Linked DNA regions of Homo sapiens. The protein of the gene in region 1 binds, or shares a complex with, the protein of each later gene. Each region holds a gene or a part of one and is shown on either strand. Other genes may lie near its edges. A codon is read from its position in the direction of its gene.

Evidence for each region. The genes of interacting proteins can lie anywhere in the genome.
Region 2: the proteins of CPEB1 (region 1) and PIN1 are in contact, whole or in part, in an NMR structure (PDB 2N1O), measured with the Homo sapiens proteins. Residues at the interface, in NP_001352172.1 of Homo sapiens: Arg206, Ile207, Ser208, Pro209, Pro210, Leu211, Pro212, Phe213; in NP_006212.1 of Homo sapiens: Arg17 (codon at 4,704), Tyr23, Ser32, Gln33, Trp34, Glu35.

Annotation. Positions count from the first base shown.
Region 1 is NC_000015.10:82,542,684-82,546,376, reverse strand, and holds the end of CPEB1 (cytoplasmic polyadenylation element-binding protein 1), read left to right. Parts: intron 1-1,674; coding exon 1,675-1,785; 3' UTR 1,786-3,176; downstream 3,177-3,693.
Region 2 is NC_000019.10:9,830,690-9,838,338, forward strand, and holds the start of PIN1 (peptidyl-prolyl cis-trans isomerase NIMA-interacting 1), read left to right. Parts: upstream 1-4,628; 5' UTR 4,629-4,655; coding exon 4,656-4,713; intron 4,714-6,133; exon of another isoform or gene 6,134-6,177; coding exon of another isoform or gene 6,178-6,186; intron 6,187-7,322; coding exon of another isoform or gene 7,323-7,386; intron 7,387-7,649. UniProt on the Homo sapiens protein: Peptidyl-prolyl cis/trans isomerase (PPIase) that binds to and isomerizes specific phosphorylated Ser/Thr-Pro (pSer/Thr-Pro) motifs.

The DNA.
Region 1 (3,693 bases):
ACACCTGTAATCCCAGCACTTTGGGATGCCAAGGTGGGCGGATCAGGAGGACCAGCCTGGCCAACATGGTGAAACCCCGTCTCTATTAAAAATACAACAATTAGCCTGGCGTGGTGGCAGGCGCCTGTAATCCCAGCTACTTGGGAGGCTGAGGCAGGCGAATAGCTTGAACCCAGGAGGCGGAGGTTGCAGTGAGTCGAGATCACGCCACTGCACTTCAGCCTGGGACAGAGCGAGACTCCGTGTCAAAAAAAAAAAATTGTTATGCCAAGTTCATGACATTGAATGTTGGAGTTCTGAGGTACCCTGTGGTGTCTGAGAGCATAGAGGAGGCAGCAGTAATGTTTGCTGAAGGTCAGACCGGGACAGACATACTTTAGATAGCTTGATCCAGAACTCTTAAGAAAATATGTTGAATTGAGTCTTTATACTTTGGTCTTTTTCTTGCCTGGGATATTGCTATGCAGTATGCCACTATTGCTGAGAGGTGGTTTTGTAGATGATGGAAGCCTGGCTGGGTGTGGTCAGCAGCACGTGGGAGCCAGGCTCAGCTGCCTAACCCTGAAGCCTTCTAAGCTGATTTTTCTGTAAAGGAGGATGCCTCGTCCTCCTTTACATCTGAACTTCTGGACGACTTTGATATTTGCATCTGGGCTGTACCCACAGGTGTCAGCGACAGGCAGAAAGCAGCGAGGTGGCTTTCTATTGAATGTTCCTGGGTGATGGAATGTGGATCTGGATGTGTTTGGCAGTGCTTCTCAAACCTTAATTACAGACACATCACCTGAGGATCTTAGATTCTGATTCAGTGGGTTTGGGGCGGACCCTGAGATTCCATGTGTCCAACAAGTATCCAAGTGGTGTCAATGCTGCTAGTCAGTATCATCCTTTGACAGGTGTTAGGGGAAGTTTGGGACCTCTTAGGACACCAGCAGCAGTCCTTCCATGCTTAGTGGGTGCTTTTTAAATTTTGTTTAAAAATTTGTTGCAGTGATGCCATTGATCAGATTTGGAGTCTCTGAATATGGTTAAACTGAGGCTCTCAAGTGAGAGTTTGAAGTTAAGTTTGAATTGTTAGTTAAAGCCTGAGACCAAGTATCTCTCTGATCAGCCTCATCTACGAGGCTTTTATGGATCTGGATCTTTCACAGATAATCTCCATAGTCAGATAATTGCTCAGAGATTAGTGGCTTGCCTGACGTTACACAGCAACCAAGAGATGGGACTAGACTGAGAAACCCAGTCACCTCTCCTCACTTAATGGGAAGAAAGCAGGATGTTGCCTAGCATTAGAATTTTTAGTCAGTATCCTTATACATTCTCCACGTTAGCAGCCATGTGATACAACTACTCTGTAGGAGGTGAGAAGGGCAGGGGAATAGGAGAGCAGCTGTCATGGTTAGAGGGGATAAGAGAAACTAGCATGGTCTCTGCACACACTACGAGCCCAACATGTTTAAGTAAGGGGACCTGTAACAAGGATGGTGGGTTTGCCATAGTTAATCAGGCTTCTGTGTTGGGGTGAGAGCATTCCTAGGGACCATTTCTTCTAACCCACAGAGGCCATCGGGAGTCTCCCACCCTTCTCCAAACAGAACAAGCAGCTCGTGCAACAGCTCCTGTGTCTGGTGCTGACACAGGCATGGCATCCTCCTTTTTGTTCCCCCAACCCAGGTCTGCTTCAAATACTTCTGCCGGAGCTGCTGGCACTGGCGGCACAGCATGGAGGGCCTGCGCCACCACAGCCCCCTGATGCGGAACCAGAAGAACCGAGATTCCAGCTAGAGGAGCTGGCCTTGCCCAGTGGCCTGTGGCGCCCAAAGCTGGCAGGTCAGGCAAGCAGCCTGCACCACCCTGCCACTGGCGACCAGGGAGCTGGCTTCCCAAGGACAAGGGAAAATTGTAGTCACCTTTGCACTTGCTGAATCTGTCTTTGTTTCTGCACTAATTAATGCACATTGAGTTTTGTCAGGTTTTGTTTTCAGGGGGTGTACCAAGGGCAAGGACCCTCTGGCTTACCCTCCAAGCGACTCTGTAGTTTTCCCAGATTTTAGTTCCTCATTTTGCAGATGAAAAGCGGGGAAAAAAAAAAAAAAAAAAAAAACTACGTGTCCAGAAGGTATTGAGGTATTGACACGGATGCCTACACCTAGGTTTATTTATTAAAAGCGCTTTTTTACATTCCTTGCAATACTGATGGTGATGATGCGCAGGTCTCATTGGTTTCATTCTTGCAGTTGCCATACAGTGCCTTTCCATTTATTTAACCCCCACCTGAACGGCATAAACTGAGTGTTCAGCTGGTGTTTTTTACTGTAAACAATAAGGAGACTTTGCTCTTCATTTAAACCAAAATCATATTTCATATTTTACGCTCGAGGGTTTTTACCGGTTCCTTTTTACACTCCTTAAAACAGTTTTTAAGTCGTTTGGAACAAGATATTTTTTCTTTCCTGGCAGCTTTTAACATTATAGCAAATTTGTGTCTGGGGGACTGCTGGTCACTGTTTCTCACAGTTGCAAATCAAGGCATTTGCAACCAAGAAAAAAAAAATTTTTTGTTTTATTTGAAACTGGACCGGATAAACGGTGTTTGAGCGGCTGCTGTATATAGTTTTAAATGGTTTATTGCACCTCCTTAAGTTGCACTTATGTGGGGGGGTGGGGTTGATAGAAGTTTTTAATCACAAAGTCACAGGACTTTTTTCTTTTGTAACTGAGCTAAAAAGGGCTGCTTTTCGGTGGGGGCAGATGAAGGCTCACAGGAGCCCTTTCTCTTAGAGGGGGCAAGTACCCTTCCCTTATATCTTTAATTTGAGGAATGTATGAGATAACAGTTGCAGTTGACTGAAATGCCACTGGAATTTGAAAACTTGACTTTTTTTTCTTTCCTTTTTTTTTTTTTTTTTTTTTTTAAAAAGAAACAAAAAACCCACAAAAACTACTTGCCCCTCCTAGGGAAGCTGTGTGCCAAAGAACCAGTGTCATAACCCCTCCCTCCTGCTGAGCTGACGTTGCATTGTTGCATATCCCAGCTACTCTGTGGGTTTTGTGAAGCTGTGTGTGAAGTCTCTACCTCATTGTAGTATATGCAGGCAAGACTGCACTCTCCTACAGATGTGTGGAGTAAGCTGTGGTGTAGTTTTTTTGGCACATAATAAACACGTTGCAGCAGAGTTCTGGTTTTGTCTCTGTGTTTGAGGTCTGGGAGCAAGGGGCTAACGGGAGGGAGTAAGGGGGTAATGGCACAGCCACAGCTTGTTTCCTTGGATTTCTGTGATGGAGATCCTGGCCCAGGATAATGGTGGGACCATGTGGGAGACCTGCCCTGTGAGTACTTCTTGGTCCCTTCCATCGTCAAATATACTTTGGAGATGCTTCTCCAGTGGATGGGTGCTTCTAGCCCAAATATAAAAAGTCCTCATATCTTAGCTTCTCGGGGGTCCTCACAGCCTCCAGGCCCAGCTTAGAGAATGCTGGAGGCACAGCTGCTCACGTGCCAGCAGAAGCCACTTGTTCTCAGCTTCTCCTGGAAGTCTTGGCCTATTACTTCTTCGGAGGCTGCTCATCCTCTTGGACCCACCTATGATGATGCAGTTCCTTTCTGAGAGGGAGTGATTGGGTTTTTGCTGTTCAGAGAGCCCTATCAACGGAACTTTCTCAGAGCTCACAGGATTTCTGGCAAGGTCTGCT
Region 2 (7,649 bases), on another chromosome or scaffold:
AGCCCTGAACTGGACTCAACACAGTCCTCCTGCATCAGCCTCCCAAGTAGCTGGGCAGTGTGTACCACCACGCCAGCTAATTTTAAAATTATTATTATTATTTATTTTATTTGAGACAGAGTCTCGCTCTGTCACCCAGGCTGGAGTGCAGTGGCACGATCTCAGCTCACTGCAACCTCTGCCTCCTGGGTTCAAGCAATTCTCCTGCCTCACCTGAGGCAGGAGACTGGGACTACAGGCGTGCCCCATGACACCAGTTAATTTTTGTATTTTTAGTAGAGATGGGGTTTCACCATGTTGGCCAGGCTGGTCTCAAACTGCTGACCTCAAGTGGTCCACCCTCCTCGGCCTCCCAAAGTGCTGGGATTACAGGCGTGAGCCACCGCGTCTGGCATTTTGAAATTTTTTGTACAGACAGGGTCTCCCCTATGTTGCCCAAAATAGTCTTGAACTCCTGACCTCAGGTGATCCTCCAGCCTTGGCCTCCCAAAGTACTGAGATTATAGGCACAAGCCATCATGCCTGGCCCTAGCACTTCTTTTCAAGACAAAACGTGATAGTAGACAGTGAGGCAGTGTGGCACTATAAGTGTGGCTACATGATCCCAGCCTCAAGAGTCAGACCGACTAGATTTGAATTTTGATTGATCCTTAGCAGTGGGATTTCAGCCTCTGCGACCCTCAGTTTCATCCTCTAAAAATGAGCACTACAGTGGCACCCACATCTCAATGAGACCACGCAATTAGAATAGCAGGATGCCTGGCACATAATGTTATTTGCTGTATTCTTCCTCTAGGTGTGAGTAGACAGGAGACCAACTGTCCCTCTGTTCCCCTGGCCACAGTTCTTTGTGTCAACCTTGCTCCTGTCCTGTTTTATTTTTTAAATTAAAAAAATTTTTTTTTTGAGATGGAGTTTCACACTTGTTGCCCAGGCTGGAGTGCAATGGCATGATCTCAGCTCACTGTAAACCCCGCCTCCTGGGTTCATGTGATTTTTTTGCCTCAGCCTCCTGAGTAGCTGGAATTACAGGTGCATGCCACCACACCCAGCTAATTTTTTTTAGTAGAGACAGGGTTTCACCATGTTACCCATGATGGTCTTGATTTCCTGACTTCATGATCCGTTCACCTCAGCTTCCCAAATTGCTGGGATTACAGGTGTCAGCCACTGCGCCCGGCCCTGAATTTCTTATTTCTTATACCACTCCTCCCACCAGTGGTGGGCATTAATACATTTGAGTGACTCTAGAAACTTTCTGGAATAACCTAGAGTTTTTATCATACGGGGATAATTATATGTCCCGTAATATTTATATGACATTCCATAGTTTGCTTTTCTGTGCTTTTTTTTAATTATTATTTTTTATTATTATTTTTTGAGATGGAGTTTTGCTCTTTTTGCCCAGGCTAGAGTGCAATGGTGCAATCTCGGCTCACTGCAACCTCTGCCTCCCGGGTTCAAGCGATTCTCCTGCCTCAGCCTCCCAAGTAGCTGGGACTACAGGCACGAGCCACCACACCTGGCTAATTTTTTGTATTTCCAGCAGAGACAAGGTTTCACCATGTTGGCCAGGCTGGTCTCAAACACCTGAGCTCAAGTGATCCGCCCGCCTCAGCCTCCCAAGGTGCTGGGATTATAGGTGTGAGCCGTTGGGCCAGCCATGATTTAGCAATTTTGAAACTACTTTTGTGTGTGTGGGTGTGGGCACATGGGCCCATGTAATACACACAAACAGGGTTGAACAAATAAGTAAACTTGTAGATAATGAGAGCTGGGTGTCTCACTGTGGAGAAGGAAGTTACAAATAAAACAGGAGATGGGAATGCTTAAAATGAACCTTGTAGGACTGGATTTGGAGGCATCAGTCTGAATTCATGGTTTTCGTTTAACAGATATATTGATACATATAGATGTGTGTATACATATGTATATTTCCTTGCTCTATCCACTTAGAGGGACCAGAAACAGTGACACTCCAGGAACAGTGAGCACCCATCCTGGAACATAAAAACACTAGTGGGAAAACAGGATTGGGGGGAATTTGTGGTTTAGTTAATAGTATTATATTGATATTGGTTTCTTAGTGTTGATAATTATATTATAGCAGGGTTTCTAAGCTTTGGCATTGTTGACTTTTTTGGGTTGGATTTTTTTTTTTTTTTTTTTTTTTTGAGACAGGCTGGAGTGCAGTGGCACGATCTTGGCTCACTGAAAGCTCCACTCCAGGGGTTCAAGCAATTCTCCGCCTCAGCCTCCCGAGTAGCTGGGATTACATGCGCCCGCCACCACACCTAATTTTCGTATTTTTAGTAGAGATGGGTTTTCACCATCTTGGCCAGGCTGGTCTTGAACTCCTGACCTCTTGATCCACCCACCTTGGCCTCCCAAAGTGGTGGGATTACAGGCGTGAGCCACCGCACCCAGCCTTTTATTTTTATTTATTTATTTATTTTTTGAGACAGAGTCTCCCTCTGTCACCCAGGCTAGAGTGCTGTGGCAAGATTATGGCTAATTGCAGCCTCTTAACTCCTAGACTCAAGAGATCCTCCCACCTCAGCCTCCCAAGTAGCTGGGATTACAGGCACGTGCCACCACACCCAGTGAATTATTTTTGTAGAGATAGGGTCTTGCCATGTTGCCCAGGCTGGTCCCCAACTCTGGGCTCAAGCGATCCTCCTGCCTTGGGCTCCCAAAGCCCTGGATTACAGGTGTGAGCCACCACACTCAGCCCTTGGATTGGATAATTCTTTTGGTGGGGGCTGTGCCTTGAAGGATGTTAGCAGCATCCTTGGCATCTAATACTAAATGCCAGTAGCCAGTAGTATCTCCTGTTCCAAAATGTCTGAAGGTGTTGTAACAACCAAAAATGTATCAAGATGTTGCCAAATGTCCCTTGGGAAACAAAATCGCTACTGGTTGAGAATTCTGTTCTATTGTTTATTTAAGACGCTAATATTAGGGAAGTTTGGGTGAAGGGTACATGAAAACCCTACTGTTTTTGTAACTGCCCATGTCTAAAATTATCTTTATAAAAAGTATCTTTTTAATATTATGCTAATACTTGTAAAAAATGTTCTATTAAAACTTAAACTTTTTTTGTTTTTTGAGATGGAGTCTCGCTCTGTCACCTACGCTGGAGTGCAGTGGTGCGATCTCGGCTCACTGCAACCTCCGCCTTCCAGGTTCAAGTAATTCTCCTGTCTCAACCACCCGAGTAGCTGGAATTAAAGGTGCCCACTATCACGCCTGGCTAATTTTTGTATTTTTAGTAAAGACAGGGTTTCACCATGTTGGCCAGGCTGGTCTCGAACTCCTGACTTCAGGTTATCCACCCACCTCGGCCTTCCAAAGTGCTGGGATTACAGGTGTGAGCCACCGAGCCTGGCTTGAGTGCTTTATGTGGATTAATTTATTTAATGTTCACATCAAACAGAAGGATGTAATTGCTTATCCCCGCTTTGCAGATTGGGAAACCGAAGTACAGAGTAACGTTAAGTAATCAGTTCAAGGTCGCATAGCAAGTGTCAGTCCCAGGCTTTAAACCCAAGTCTGGCTCCAGACTTCTCTTAGCCTTCTACTGCATCCTGCGTCTAATTTGTTGTGGGCAGGTTTCCCTATGAGTTCACTTCACTGAGCCTCATTCTTTTTAACGGTCACATAGGGTTCTATGCTAGGTGAACTGTAGTTGCACCCTTTGCTGTCAGTGTCTTCAACTCCCATATCTACCCACAGTTCCCCAACTCTGGGTCCCCAAATACCTCCCCTGTGTCCCACGGGCTCTGCAGACTCTATTTTAAGTTGGCTAAAACTGAGCCCATCTCCTCCCACCTGCACCTCCTCCGTGTTCTTATATGAATGTCAATGTCGGCACCCACTGGTCACCCAGGATGGAGGAAGGAGCCAGACTGCGAGGGAATAAAGGAAGTAAGCAGGTTCCAAAGGACGTGGAAGGCCTTTGGGTCCAGAGCCTAGGGAAAAGTTGAGCCCTGCAAAAAATAAAAGAGGCTGGGTTAGCTTTGGACATCTGTGGGAAACAGGTGGGAAGAGGGAGGATGGAGGAGCCAAATTTAAGCATCGGGTACTTAGGTGCTCATCTCCAAGGCAACTGCATTGCTATGGCAACAGCAGAGGCAGCACCGCCCCGCCCAAGTACCTCCTGGACCGCCGTTACCTCTGCACCAGCCAGACTCTTCCGCATGGGAGGGCTGGGGGCTTGCGGACCTCCGGGAACAGCTCAGGCAGGCGGGAGTTGCTGCGGCATTAGCCAATCCATAAGCTCTATCCCGCCTGGGTGGGCTCTGCGGCGACGCGCGCCAAGAAGGGGTCGGGAGTTTTTTGGCGCTCGCTAAAGGGCGTTGAGAAGGGCGGGCCCGCGTCGCTTCGGACCACTCAGGAGCCGAGGAGAGCGAGTGGGCGGGGCCAGGCTGAGGCTGGCCGGGGGCGGGGCGCAGGGATAACGTGGGAGGGTCCGCCCAGCCTTTCTTCTACCCAATAGAAGGCCAGAAAGCCAATCCGGACCGTTAGGGAGCCCAATGGGCGTCGCCGCCAGGCCCCGTTGCAGAGCGCGTCTAGCCAATAGGCAGCGGCGGCGGGCGGGCGCGGGCGACAGGCGGCGCAGCTGAGGCGGAGCAGGCGCTGCGGCAGGAGGGAAGATGGCGGACGAGGAGAAGCTGCCGCCCGGCTGGGAGAAGCGCATGAGCCGCAGCTCAGGTGCCGCGGGGGTCGGGGCTGGGGCGGGACTGCGCGGGCCCGCGTAAGCAGGGCTCGAGCTCGCCCCTTGGGCGCGGCGGCAGCGCTGCCTCCCTCCCATGGGGTCCTGGCTCTTCCGCGTCGTCCCCGGGGTAACGGCCCCGGCCCGCCCTGTTGTGGGGACTGCGAGCCTCAGGAGCCGCCGGGAAGCCTGAGGAAGCTGAGGCAGGGGGCTGGGCGGGTGAGGGTCCGGGGAGTCCGGGGCGATGGCCCTGGCCCTGCCGGCCCGGCTGATACCTCTCGGCCTAATGCACCTGACACCCCGGGGGACGTCTCTGCACCTTGCTGGGCCCGGGGGCACCCCTGGGAGGGAGACACCCCAGTACCCTGCAAAGGGCGTAGGGTGTTGCCCGGCCTCGGGTCCACAACCTACCCCTGCTAACACCCCTACTGTGTACACCTAATGCTGAGTCTGCGACATCGCCCGTGACATTCTGCCAGACGATGGCCCCTGTGCTTAGGCCCGATTTAAGGGTTAGCCACAATGATAATATTGCCAGTAACAGGGCATGTTTTTCTCTGTGTCAAGCGCTTTAAGTTCTCTCTGAATTGCCGCAACTCTGGGAGCCAGGTAGTTATTACTTCCACCTTACCAGCAAGGAAACTGAGGTCAGAAAACTGAAGGAACTCGTCCAAGATCATTCATTTCAGGGGCCGGGGGTTGGATTAGGACCTAGGCAGTTTGCCTACAAATCCCCCTCCCCGTGTCACTGCAAACTCCTGAGGAGCAGGCCCAGCATCTGTGGGCAGGTCCCGAGTCACTCTGCTGCCTCTAGAGCCCATAGCAATCGCATTTGCAATAATAATTCTCCTTGGTTGAGTGCCAGGTTCTGGTGAACTGTTTGGATACATGGACTCTCCTCATTAACCCCATGAGGTTTGATCTCCTTATTCTCTATTCCCCATTTTTCAGATGAGAAAACTGAGGTGCAGGGAGATTAGAGCCCATTGCCAAGGTTTTAGAGTGAGTCAGTAGCTCAGCTGCATTTGCACCTGGAACCCGCGCTCTCGCCCACCCTGCTCTAGCCCTGGCCTGTGGCTGGGACCTCCAGCATAAACCGGATGCTCTGCCCAGCTCTGGGCCCATTTCTGCTGTTTCTGCTCAGTTCAACCCTGATGGCTTCCTTTATGGGTGACACTCCATGTCACCCAGGCGAACTGTCAGCCTTTGGAGTGGCACCCAGTAGGGTCTTTACTTCCAGTTTCTTGTTCACAGTCTTCACTCCTTCATACCCCTCACTCCCTGGGTAACATCGGGCCACCAGTAATGCTGGTTCCTAGCTCTGCAACACCATGCACGGTGTAGTAGCTAAGAGCAGAGCTTTCGGGTGTGAAGTACCTGAGTACAGTTCCTGCCTTCCCCTGTGTGTGCCTGGAACAGAGTAAACACTCAGGAAGCGTTACCCACTGCTGCCATTCCCAGAGATGCAAAAGGTGAGGTCTCCGTTTTGCCATCTATACAATAGAGATAATAAAGGCTATCCCACTCTTAATGTGTGCCAGTTTCTGTCCTAGGCATTTTGTAGATGTGTGAGCTTATTTAGTGCTTTCTTATTATTATTTTTGGAGATGGTCTCACTGTGTGGCTCAGGCTGCAGTGCAGCCTCTGCCTCCCAGGCTTAAGCAATCCTCCCACCTCAGCCTTTCAAGTAGCTGAGACCACAGGCGTGTACCACCCACCCATGGCTAATTTTTTATTTTTTATTTTTTATTGTTTGTTTGTTTGTTTTGAGACAGAATCTCACTCTGTCACCCAGGCTGGAGTGCAGTGGCATGATCTTGGCGCACTGCAACCTCTGCCTCCCGGGTTCAAGTGATTCTCCTGCCTCAGCCTCCCGAGTAGCTGGGATTACAGGTGCCTGCCACCACGTCTGGCTAATTTTTGTATTTTTAGTAGAGACGAGGTTTCACCATGTTGGCCAGGCTGGTCTCGAGCTCCTAACCTCAGGTGATCCACCTGCCTCAGCCTCCCAAAGTGCTGGGATTACAGGCCTGAGCCACTGCGCCCAGCCAGCCTGTTGTTTTTGTTTTTGTTTTGAGACAAGAGTCTCACTCTATCGCTCAGGCTGGAGTGCAGTGGCATGATCTTGGCTCACTGTAGCCTCCACCTTCCAGATTCAAGCAATTCTCCTGCCTCAGCCTCCCGAGTAGCTGGGATTACAGACATACACCACAACGCCCGGCTAATGTTGGTTTGTTTGTTTGTTTGTGACGGAGTTTTGCTCTTGTTGCCCAGGCTGGAGTGCAGTGGCACAATCTCAGCTCACTGCAACCTCCATCTCCCGGGTTCAAGCGATTCTCCTGCTTCAGCCTCCCCAGTAGCTGGGATTACAGGTGCCTGCCACCATGCCGGGCTAATTTTTTATATTTTTAGTAGAGATGGGGTTTCACTGTGTTGGCCAGGCTGGTCTTGAACTCCTGACCTCAGGTGATCCACCCCACCTTGGCCTCCCAAAGTGCTGGGATTACAGGTGAGAGCCACCGTGCTTAGCCCTTTTAAAAATGTTTAAAAATTATTATTTAGTCCTTTCAATGACCCTAAGGTAGGAACTGTTATCTCCATTTTGCAGGTGAGAACACCAAGGCCCAGGGAAGATATATCACATTTGAACCCAGATTCAGATTTGAATCCAGGTGGCCTGGCTGCTGAGTGCATGGTTTGAGTCACTCCCTGTCCCCCAGCTTCCTCTGTTCCATCACTCTGGGTTATTTTCCTCCTTGAAGTTATCAGGGATTGATACTATCCTGTGTTTCATTTGCTTGTTTAGCACCTGTCTGCTCTCACCTAGAATGTTAGCTCTCTAAGGGCAGGGACTGTATCCTGCCACATTGGCCCACGTCTGGAGAGCCTGTGGCACATGGTGGATACACCATGGATTTGTTGAATGAAGGCGCCC